2 separate regions of the Homo sapiens genome follow, and region 1 is linked to region 2. Evidence: fine-mapped QTL for protein levels in blood plasma. A gene starts in region 2. The other region holds a variant in brackets. All regions are shown on one strand. Distances are from middle to middle. Region 1 has its middle 5.5 kb from the start of AMTN. Region 2 holds the start of AMBN (ameloblastin).

Evidence for each region. PIP is the chance, under the fine-mapping model, that this variant and not a neighbour inherited with it causes the effect. Protein levels are from antibody-based Olink assays in UK Biobank. Linkage for the fine-mapping came from a reference panel and not from the study's own genotypes, which makes the PIPs less certain.
Region 1: its variant is fine-mapped to the plasma level of the AMBN protein (UK Biobank, PIP 0.98).

Annotation. Positions count from the first base shown.
Region 1 is chr4:70,510,395-70,515,786 of GRCh38, forward strand. No RefSeq gene overlaps it. Among named protein-coding and RNA genes, the nearest start is that of AMTN, 5.5 kb to the right of the region's middle. The variant TA/T (reference allele first, on the strand shown) is at 2,819.
Region 2 is chr4:70,589,343-70,594,734 of GRCh38, forward strand. It overlaps AMBN (ameloblastin), which reads left to right and starts at 2,914. Exons shown (of 13, transcript NM_016519.6): 1 at 2,914-3,031; 2 at 3,985-4,053. The coding sequence starts at 3,017.

The sequences.
Region 1 (5,392 bases), 79 kb before region 2:
CCTCAGTCACTTCTTCAACTTTTTTACTCCACCACTTTCCACACTTCAAAACAGTGGACTTCCTCGGGACTGATTCTTAGGCCTTCTCATTTTATATAAGAGACAGCAAATTGACAACCTACTAGTTCAATCCCCAATGTCTAGCACATTGTCTGGAAAATAGTAAATATTGAATAAATATTTATTTGAGTAATTAATTAGTTAGAGGTATAGAATGCAATTGGACTTTAGGATAAGGGGACAAACTGTGAAGCTAACCACTAAGGCAAGCCCCAAGACAAGCAATTTCTCCCCACCTTACATCTACAAGTTCTCAAACTTATTAACATAATCTACCTAGACTGGACAGCCAATTAAGAAGCCAACAATTGACGCTTAAGCACCTCCTTGACATCTGGTGATTTTTAAACAAAATTAGGGAGCTGTTTGGAGTATCTTAGTCCTTAAGCCAAGGGTCTACAATCAAGAAAATCATACAATTAAATTATAGAGACAAATGAGAGCTAGTTTAGCCCTCGCAGTAAAATGAGAGTCAAATGAAAACACTACCATCAGCTTATCTGCTTGATTCTCTCCTAAGATTCAGTGATGGGTTTTGATGCTTATCCATCATCTCTCTTATCTATTCAGTAATATTCAACAAACAAAGGCCAGGACAGACAAAGAGCACAGTCTGATTTGCCTGTTTGCAGAACAATGTCATCTCAACATAACCCTAATCAAATTCAGCTTCTTCCAAAATCAGCTGATCAGCAAAGAATAGCTTCATATTAAATTCATTCAGAAACAGTTATTCATCCAAGATATGGCTCTATACGAAGTCACTGGAGATGAGCTAATCAAAAAAGAACCGCCCCATCCAAAACTCATCCAAAAACAGCTATTATTCAAGATTTTACTCCACACAAAGTCATCTGAAATCACCTTAACAGGAAAAAGCTCCCTTGCCCAAAGCTCATCCATAATCAGCTGTTTGGGCAGGATAGGGCTATACAGTCATCCCTGCTTGTCTTCAGAAGATACATTCCAAGACCACCAGTGGATGCCTGAAACCACAGATACTATCAAACCCTATATGCACTATCTTTTTTTCTATATTATACAATTACATTATATAGGGGAAGTAGCGTATACAGAGTGGATATGCCAGACAAAGGGATGATTCACATCTCCTGCCGGGCAAAGCTGGACGGTGCAAGATTTCATCAGGCTACTCAGAGTAGCATTCAATTTAAAGCTTATGATTTGTCTGTTTCTGGATTTTTTTATTTAGTATTTTCAGACCATGGTTGACCATGGATGAGTGAACCATGGAAAGCAAAACCAAGGATAAGGAGGAACTGCTCCACACAAATTATTTTAAGACAAGGTGATCTGCAAATAATTCTTTTGTCCAAAAAGCTATTCAGCAACCAGCCCCTGCAAAGAAACTCACTGAAACAAGCCGATATACAAAGAGCTGCACCATCCAAAACACGTCCAGAAATAGCACAAACTCATATTTAACTTAGCAGAATGCTTCCCCTTCAAAAGCTGGTCCAAAAACAGCTGTTTAGTTACATTCTGGATCTACACAAAATCACTCAAGAATAACAAATAAGCAAAGAGCCAGCCCAATGCAGTGGCTCACGCCTATAATTCTAATGCTTTAGGAGGCTGATGAAGGAAGATCACTTGAGGCCAGGAGTTTTAGGTGACATAGTGAGACCTTCATCACCACAAAAAAAAATTTTTTAATTAGCCAGGCATGGTGGTGCATGTTTGTAGTCCCAGCTTCTTGGGAGGCTCAGGTGGGAGTAATGCTTTAGCTAAGGAGTTTGAGGCTGCAGTGAGCTATGATCATGCCACTGCACTCCAGCCTGGGAGACAAAAAAATTTTTAAAAGCCAAAAGCCAGCTTGTTACTGGTGGAAGTTATCCAGGTTACTGGCAGTGAATCCGTACAGGTCTGCCACAACTCAATTCTTGCCTCCTCAGAAGAAATAATTCGACTGAGAGGCATAAGACAGAAAAAGAGACCGATGAAAGTTTCACAGCAGGAGTGGAAGTTTATTTGAAAAGGTTTTATAACAGGAAAGAAAGGAAAGTTCACTTGAAAGAGACCCAAATGAACACCTGAAGGTCAAGTCCAGTGTTTTACCTTGATCCTAGGACTTTTTAGGCTGGACCCTTTCTCATGATTCTTTCCTTAGGGTGAGCTGCCTGCATGTACAGTGCCCTCCTTACCCTTGGGAGGTGAGCATGTACGGTGTGTTTAGGAAGTTGTACCCATGACCATCTGAGGTTTTCTTCCCTTTTCTGGTAGTGTGCCCCCAGAAGGTCATACTCTGCCATTTTGTCTGTTAATGTGCATGCCCAGGAAGTTGCTTCTCCCTGGCATCTACATTCAGTTAACACTTTAATGCAACAGGTGTGGACCATCAGGAAATGACCTCTCCCTGGCACTGGCTACCAATTTATAACCTTTAGAGATGCAATGTTATCATTGCCAAACCGTCACCCAACATTCCTTGTGGGTGGGGGAGAGCCCTTTTCTGCCCTACTTATGCCTAACTACCTGTAACAAGCCCATCTAAAATGATTCCAAAGCAGTTATTTCATCAGGGATTGACTTTTTGTATCACCATCTAAGTACAGCTGGAAAGCAAGGAAGTGTCCTGTCCAAAGCTCCTCTTAAAACAGCAGTTCAGTCAGGAGCCTGCTCTCCAGAACATCATATGAAACCTGTAGCCAATCAAAATCTCCTCTATCAAAATATTCCCCAAAATCTGCTATTCATTTTTTTAAAAATAAATCCCAATCTTACCCAAAGTCACCTT[TA/T]AAAAAAGTCTGCTCATATCAAATTTTATCCAAATCCACAAATCAACAAAAGACCTGGACAAATTCATCTAATAAAAGTGAAATTTTTCCTTTTATATCCCTCTATACAAACCCACATCTAGATTCAATATTTTTATTTTCAAGCTCTCACTCTCAAACCCAAACCAGTATAACTACCCCAGCTATCACTACTTCTAAAGCAACTTCTACCACCCATCTGCAACTTCAGTTTTAACTACAACTCCCATGCTATCATCTGCTACAATCATAAATCAAGCCACATTATCCTACAACATCCCAGAAGCTGTCATATACAACAGCAACTTTGAAACAAAGGGTCCTCCCTATGATGGCACCAAACTATACATTGACTCGGCATCCAACTTTGAAATCACAGAAACTTCTTATGACACCACAAAATACATACTGACCTTCCATTTGACTTTGAAACTACACATTTTCTCGATTGTGTCTACAAAACTGAAAGTAACTGCCCAATTGACAGTATCAACTCAAAGAACATAAATTCCCAGCACCTTCCTTACCCTTACCTAAAGCGTTATATTGTCGTCCAAACACTGAAATCATTAATTAATTCCTCACACTAGTACTGTATCTCTTACCTTCCCTTCAGCATCCTCATCTGTTGCCCATTTGCAGGGTGTTCTTTCCTATTTTAAATATCACACCCAAGCTTTTTTTTTTTAATTCCATAAGTGTGTAATTCTATTGTTAAGTTGAAATATTTCTACATAGGCCAGGTGCAGTGGCTCATGCCTGTAATCCCAACACTTTGGGAGGCTGAGGCGGGAGGATTGCTTAAACCCAGAAGTTCAAGACCAGCCTGGGCAACAACATGAAACCCGTCTCTACAGAAAATTAGCCAGATGTGGTGGTGCGCACCTGTAGTCCAGCTACTTGGGAGGCTGAGGTGGGAGAATCACCTGAGCTGGGGAAGTCCAGGCTGCAGTGAGCCAGGAGAGCCAGGATAGCGACACTGCACTCCACCCTGGAAGACAGAAGGAGACATTGTCTCAAAAAAAGAGAAAGAAAGAAAGATGTCTACACGGACAGAATACAAAGTTGCCACACTCTTGCAAGCTTAACCCTATTTCATGAGTAAATTCGGTATAATATAGCCACATTTGTAATGACATTGTACACTGAACTTTATCACTTATGACAAAGGTCAATTCAATCTGCCAAGAAGTCTGAACATAGTTTCCTGATACCCCCTCTGGCAAAACTTTAAAAGATTAGTAAAAACCTATATAGTTTGATCTATTTAGTAGAATTTCAGATATGTTTAATTCAGTGGCTGTTTTTCGGGCACCTACTAAACTACTCCATAGAGAAGTTGCTCTACTTCTGGCCTCCAAGCGTAAGTCCGGTTTCCTCTGGGGACTGGTTGACAATTTTAAATACTTTTGTAAATTTATAAAGGCAAACAAGTCAATTCAATTCAACCCATATTTATTGTTCTATCACATACAAGCTGAGAGCTAAAGAAAATATCAAAACATATAATCTTCCTTGAAATTTAATATCTCAAAACAGTAATCAAATAACAATGGCATCAGGTGAGGTAGAATAAAATAAATAACAAAGTCATGAATTCCAAAAGCATCTCAGAGAAAGAAAAGTCTAACTCCAAATGAGAGGAACAAAAAGAAAGGCTTCATGAAGGTGGTAGCATAAAGAAGGATCTTTAAGGGTGAGTAAAACATTGACAGTCAAGGATGAAAAAGAGGACTCCAGGCAGAGGAAATAACATGAACGAATGCAGAAAAAGAAGATCAAAATGCATCTTTTCTAGCCTCTTGTGCATACATCCATTTTGCCTCTACCACATTATATAGTGATATGAGACTTGCTGCATTTTCCACAAGAACATAAATAAGGGCTTCCTCTTACTCACTTTTGTACCCGAGCACCTTGTACAATACCTTGTCCAGTACAGTGGAGGCTTCTGTTTAGTAGGTATCAGGGATTGCCATGCATCAAGAAATGCTGAATGTCGTTTACAATTATCAAGGTACTTAATTTGTTCAATCAAGCTATTACTATAATTAATGATAATCTTGTGCGCAGAATCCTTTTAATGTTGTGAGTTACCAAGTGGTGTAAGGAAATATAGAAAATTTCCAGTCTGTTTTATCCTTTCATTGTCAAAAAGATGCTCTTAGACTGAGATTCATAAAGAGTGCCTCAGGTCTGGGTAATCCTAGATCTTCCTATATCCATTGAGTGTGATGGAGTTGGAGAGAGGGTATGTTTCTTGCCTTGAGAAATCCTAGAAAGCACAGGGATGACACAAATCACTAAGGAATTCCACTAAGACTCCTCTAACCCAGAGATTTTTAACCTGTTTCTTTATAGTTGGGCTCTCAGGAGATCCATGAAATCCCTGAAGTTATTTCATAATCATTACATTCATAAGCATATATGCATTTTTCTGAGGAGATGACATGTGCATTCAATCAGCTTCTCAAAAGGGTCCATAACCCAAAGAAACTTACAACTAAAGCTAATAAGAAAGATTAAGGAATGCCTGGAACTAAAGGGCTAAGAGA
Region 2 (5,392 bases):
TGGGAAGCGGAGGTTGCAGTGAGCCAAGATCGTGCCACTGCATTCCAGCCTGGATGACAGAGTGAGACTCCGTCTCAAAAAACTTTAAAAAAAAAAACTACATGAAGATTATATAGTGGCTCATTCAATGTCATATGACCAGTGAGTATTACAGAGGGGATTTAAACAGCTGTGCTCTCAACCACTTTACTAACATATTCTGCCAGATCTTGTTGCTCTAAATTTTTCATTGTAACTTTTTCTATGGCCTATGTCTCTTCATGTGTCTCACATCTTTTGTCACTTTGAGATTTTTTTTTATTTTGCTGTACTCCAGACACAAGTATTTTCTTATAACTGACTCTCTGATTCTTCTTCATACAGGTATGGTCTTGGCCAACATAACATGGTTTCCATCAGCTATGGTAATTTCCTTATATCTATAATCACTGTCAGAAACTCATTCATACATTCATACTAATTTCCAGATTTCATTGTAATAGAAAATTTTTTGTAGGATATATTAGTATTACATTTACCAACTTTCCCAGTAACATACATCCCATAAAATCTGACAAAAAACTGTTTATTAGCTGAAAAAATGAAACCAACTCCAATTGATTACAATCATTATTACAATATGAATACACACTGTCTCATGCAAAGTGGGAAACAAGATTGGAAAGAGGAACTGAAATGTTCAATTGACTGTCTAGTTACAGAGGGTGAACTTTATGACAGCCTTAGAGATCCTTACATAGTTTTTGAGTGGGGCAGTGAAATGCCAAAACCAGTATTTTAGGAAGATAAGTCTAGTGTTGGTGTGCAGGATATTGGAGGAGAAATAAACTACCAGATAAACATCTGGAAGTCAGTAAGCCAGAATGGAGTGTGACATTTAAAAAAGGAAGAAGCAACAGTGTGTATGATATATTGGATATTTGGCTCAAAAGCAAAGCAGAACATAAGAATCCTACCAAAACATCATTATTAGTGTGTCATGATCACGCTTATAAACTTTACAAGACACACACATACACACTATTTGCCAGTTTTTTAGCCAACTAGGAAGCTCGTTCCTATGGATTCAGCATCAACTTCCACAGAGAAAATGTCCTCCATCAGGTCCCTCCTCTACCTCCTTGGAGCTTATGAACCTAGCTGCCAGCACTCCTCCTCCTCCAGCACACACACACACACACACACACACACACACACACACACAGTTCTTGTGGTCTCATATTTCATGTAGTTTCTCCTACCAAAAGGACAATCAACTCATTCATTCAGCACCCAATAAATGGCAGCTGCTGCATCTTCACCATCTCACCAATCTTTAAGACAAGCTCAGGCTGGGCGTGGTGGCTCACGCCTGTAATCCCAGCACTTTGGGATGCCAACACAGGAGGATCACCTGAGGTCGGTAGTTTCAGACCAACCTGGCCAACATGGGGAAACCCTGTCTCTACTAAAAATACAAAAAAAGTTAGCCGGGCATGGTGGCGCAGGCCTGTAATCGTAGCTGCTCAGGAGGCTGAGGCAGTAGAGTCGCCTGAACCCAGGAGGCGGAGGTTGTAGTGAGCTGAGATCACACCACTGCACTCCAGCCTGGGCAACACAGCGAGACTCCGTCTCAAAAAAAAAAAAGACTAGCTTGTGGTCATTAATTATTATCCTTACATAACAGAAGAAGGAACTGGGGCTCAAAAGAGATTAAGGGACTGCATCAAGCACCAGAGACAGCATGAAAAATAATACTTTTCATTTCAATAACATTTTGCTGTTTGCAAAACACATTCACATTCTTCATTTCTTTGCATCCTAAAGATAATTCTGGTATCAGTGGAACACAGAGGTTTTCAGGAGCAGCTTCTAAGATAACATTATTTGAAGCTGTTAGGCCTACATTTGGGTATGGATACAGCTTTCTCTCAAAATACCAGCTTCCTCAATGTTCCCTGTAATTGACAAGATCCCTACTTCCCTAAAGAGTGTACTGACTCATCCCTTCTTCAGAACTAATCTTAAATGCTTATCCCTACCATATCTGAAATCACAACTTTGGAAAGACAAGGATGGGCAGAGAAGTAACAAAAGCAGCTAATATTCAATCCACATCCAAGATATTATCTGTTCACGGAGAAAAACCAATCTGTGTTGACGTTAACCTTTTAAGTGATCGAAATATGTCTTATTAACCTGGCTTGATACTAATGCCTGGGAATGTGTCTATCTGAAGAGTGAACTGACACTTGTGCCCATTGATTTGGTTCATAGAGAATGTTCTGATTTACGTCCCCGTCCCCACAGATTTTTTTTAAAATGCACCAAACGTTTACCTGAAGTAAACCTGATTCTTGCAAAGGGTCCAACTGTAGTTTCTTACAAAAGCTTGGCTATCTCTAATCAATTATCTCCAGATATGAAAATATCTAGGAAATTCAAGGAAGAAATCACACACATTAATTTTCCATCTAACATTTTAGTGTTTTCTTTTAAACTCTGTGTGTGCTGGGGGGAAGGACAGTAGTCTCTTTTACTACAACAAACAGGAGGGTGAAAACCTGAAGAATGCTAGCATTGGGTCACTAGCTTTATCTGCAGATAAAACCTGCACAAAACAGGTTTTGTTTTGCACCTATTTTACATATATTTTCCCCAGCTCACCAAAATAATTGTCTTCAGAGCCTATGTCCATTATTCCTTTACTGCCTTCCCTGCTATCAAGTTCTCTGAATAAGTACAGGGGCTGCAGTACAATTAAAAATAATGAGACCCTACTGGGCCAATGTCCCTGCACGCAATAAAAGGGTGTGGACTAATTGCAGGAGCAGAGATTCCCGCCCCAACTCCCCCCCGCCACCCCTCGCCATTTTGCTTCACTTTGATTGGTGGATTGGCACTTTAAATAAAGGTTTCTAATCTTCCCTGAATGAGAAGTACAGAGCAAGTCCCACGCACAGTCCTGAAAAAAATTTTAATCTTCTTTTCTTAGAACTATCTTGGTTGGCATCATCAGGCCCTGAGAGCACAGTGCATGTCAGCATCTAAGGTAAAATGGGATTTTATGATTTCCATGTGTTTCCTGTAAATTCTTTTTTTCCTATCTCCTGACAGCTTTTATAAAGAGGATTTATCTTCATTTGTCACCAGTAGCTGAATTATTGCTTGTTGTAATCCATTAGCATGTCCCAGAGATGACATGCCTAACACCCATTCAACTAAGAAAAAAAAAAAGACTTTTATTTATAGATTGTGTTTTTTTTAATGTTTTTGATTATAGTGCCTAATTCTTTTTAATATTAGAAGATGAGTAAATTTCTAGGCTATTCAGATCTCTATTCATGTAAGAATAAAGAGCTTTTTGAATTTATAGAATAAATTTTAAAAGATAATTCATTTTAGGAAGAGGAAAGCTAAATTTGAGACATATTTTCCACTAACATCAAAGAAAATTAAGATAGCCAATTTACTCTCATTTGAAAAGAAAAATTTTGTCATGGTTACGTAGATTACCTAAACATGCAATGATGTACCCTCTATTCCTGCAAATAAAGGTTTGTTATAAAATGACTTAGTTGCATTACATTTCACATGCATTTCAAAATGTGTCCCAAAGGGTAAGCAAAGTATAAACTTCTGTGAATAATACCTTATAGACCAATATTTTACTTAGTGGGAAGGATTTTTAAACTCATAATTCACTTTATGAAATGAAATATATCACAAAGAATATCGATGGAGGTTGTTCCTACATACTTATTTAGGCTGTAGATCCATTTAAAACGTGCTTAGATATTTTTTAATTGCTTGTTAATTTATTTCAGAAACTACTACATACAAATCGGTTGTTTAGTAACATTTAGTTTTTGTTTTTGTTCTTCTAACCTTTATCCCGGTGGTTTTTGTAAGAGCAGAGACTCAGGCTCATTTTCAAAAATTGTCTTTTAACCATTCTGAATAAAAATTCATCTGATTTAATTCTCCAACTTAATTATGTTTTAGATTCCACTTTTCAAAATGAAGGACCTGATACTGATCCTATGCCTCCTGGAAATGAGTTTTGCAGTGCCGGTAAGTCAGTCTTTAGAGTGTGTCCCAGAAAAGGTTATTGATTGTCGAACTCCAAACAACACTGAAGGGATATGGACTGAGAGTCCACGCATAGACTCACTTGATTTAATCCAGTGGTTTAGTCCTATTGAGTCAAAAGCCATAGTTGCTCAGATGTCAGTCTTGCAATCCAAAAGCGGTAAGTGATAGCCGGGTGCGGTGGCTCACGCCTGTAATCCCAGCACTTTGGGAGGTTGAGGCAGGAGGATGACCTGAGGTGAGGAGCTTGAGACCAGCCTAGCCAACATGGCTAAACCCTGTCTCTACTAAAAATACAAAAATTAGCCAGGCGTGGTGGTGGGCACCTGTAATCCCAGCTACTTGGGAGGCTGAGGCAGGAGAATTGCTTGAACCTGGGAGGCGGAGGTTGCAGTAAGCCAAGATTGTGCCACTACACTCCAGCCTGGGTGACGGAGTGAGACTCCATTTAAAAAAAAAAAAAAAAAGCAGTAAGTGAAGTATGATATTTCTACTAAAAAGTTATTTAAAATAGTCCCAAGACAATTTCTAGATCTTATTCCACTCATTCAAAGTTAAAAGCTTAGATAGTCTCCACAATGCATGGCGAAATTTTATTATCAACTTATTGCTATCATTATAAAGTTGAAATGGAAAGAGGAAATTTCTTTGAAAAAAATACATTTTCTTCATTTCAAAAAGAACTATCTCTAAATTTCTATGGTTACAAAACTCAGCTAGATAATTCCATTTAAAGCTAGTAATTAACTAGCAAATTTACCTTGTAAACATGAAATTGTGTGACTGAGAGCTGAAGTTTCATAAATCAAAACATATCATAGTGATGGGGCTAATTGTGTATTACAGTCCCACACCTGATCCATTCTAGTATATATTGAAATGATCTCATACAAACACAATCTTTTGAACACTGAACTACTCCAGCCAACAGCATGCAATTCTGTTATCACAAAAACTTTATTTGGCTGCTATATGCATTTAGCAAATATGTTGAGCAGCTGCCATGCATCCAGTAAATAAGACATGGAAAAATGAAAGTAAATAAGACATGATCTCTTGTCTCCAGTAGCTCACAGTTGGCCTCAAATGAACTTTAGAGTATTTTAATTCCTTGAAAGAAAAGGTTAGCTACTTGGTCTTCTTAAAGTGTTTTAGAGAAAGAGAATGGAAATGGAGAAAGAGGTTGAAAACTGATTATAATGATGAAAACCTTAATTCCACAAATAAAAATAGTCTCTGTTCCATCACGCAAGATGAATTTTAAATGAAAGAAAAATTGAGGGTGCCACCCTAGCTTACCTTTATATGATACTGACGTTGG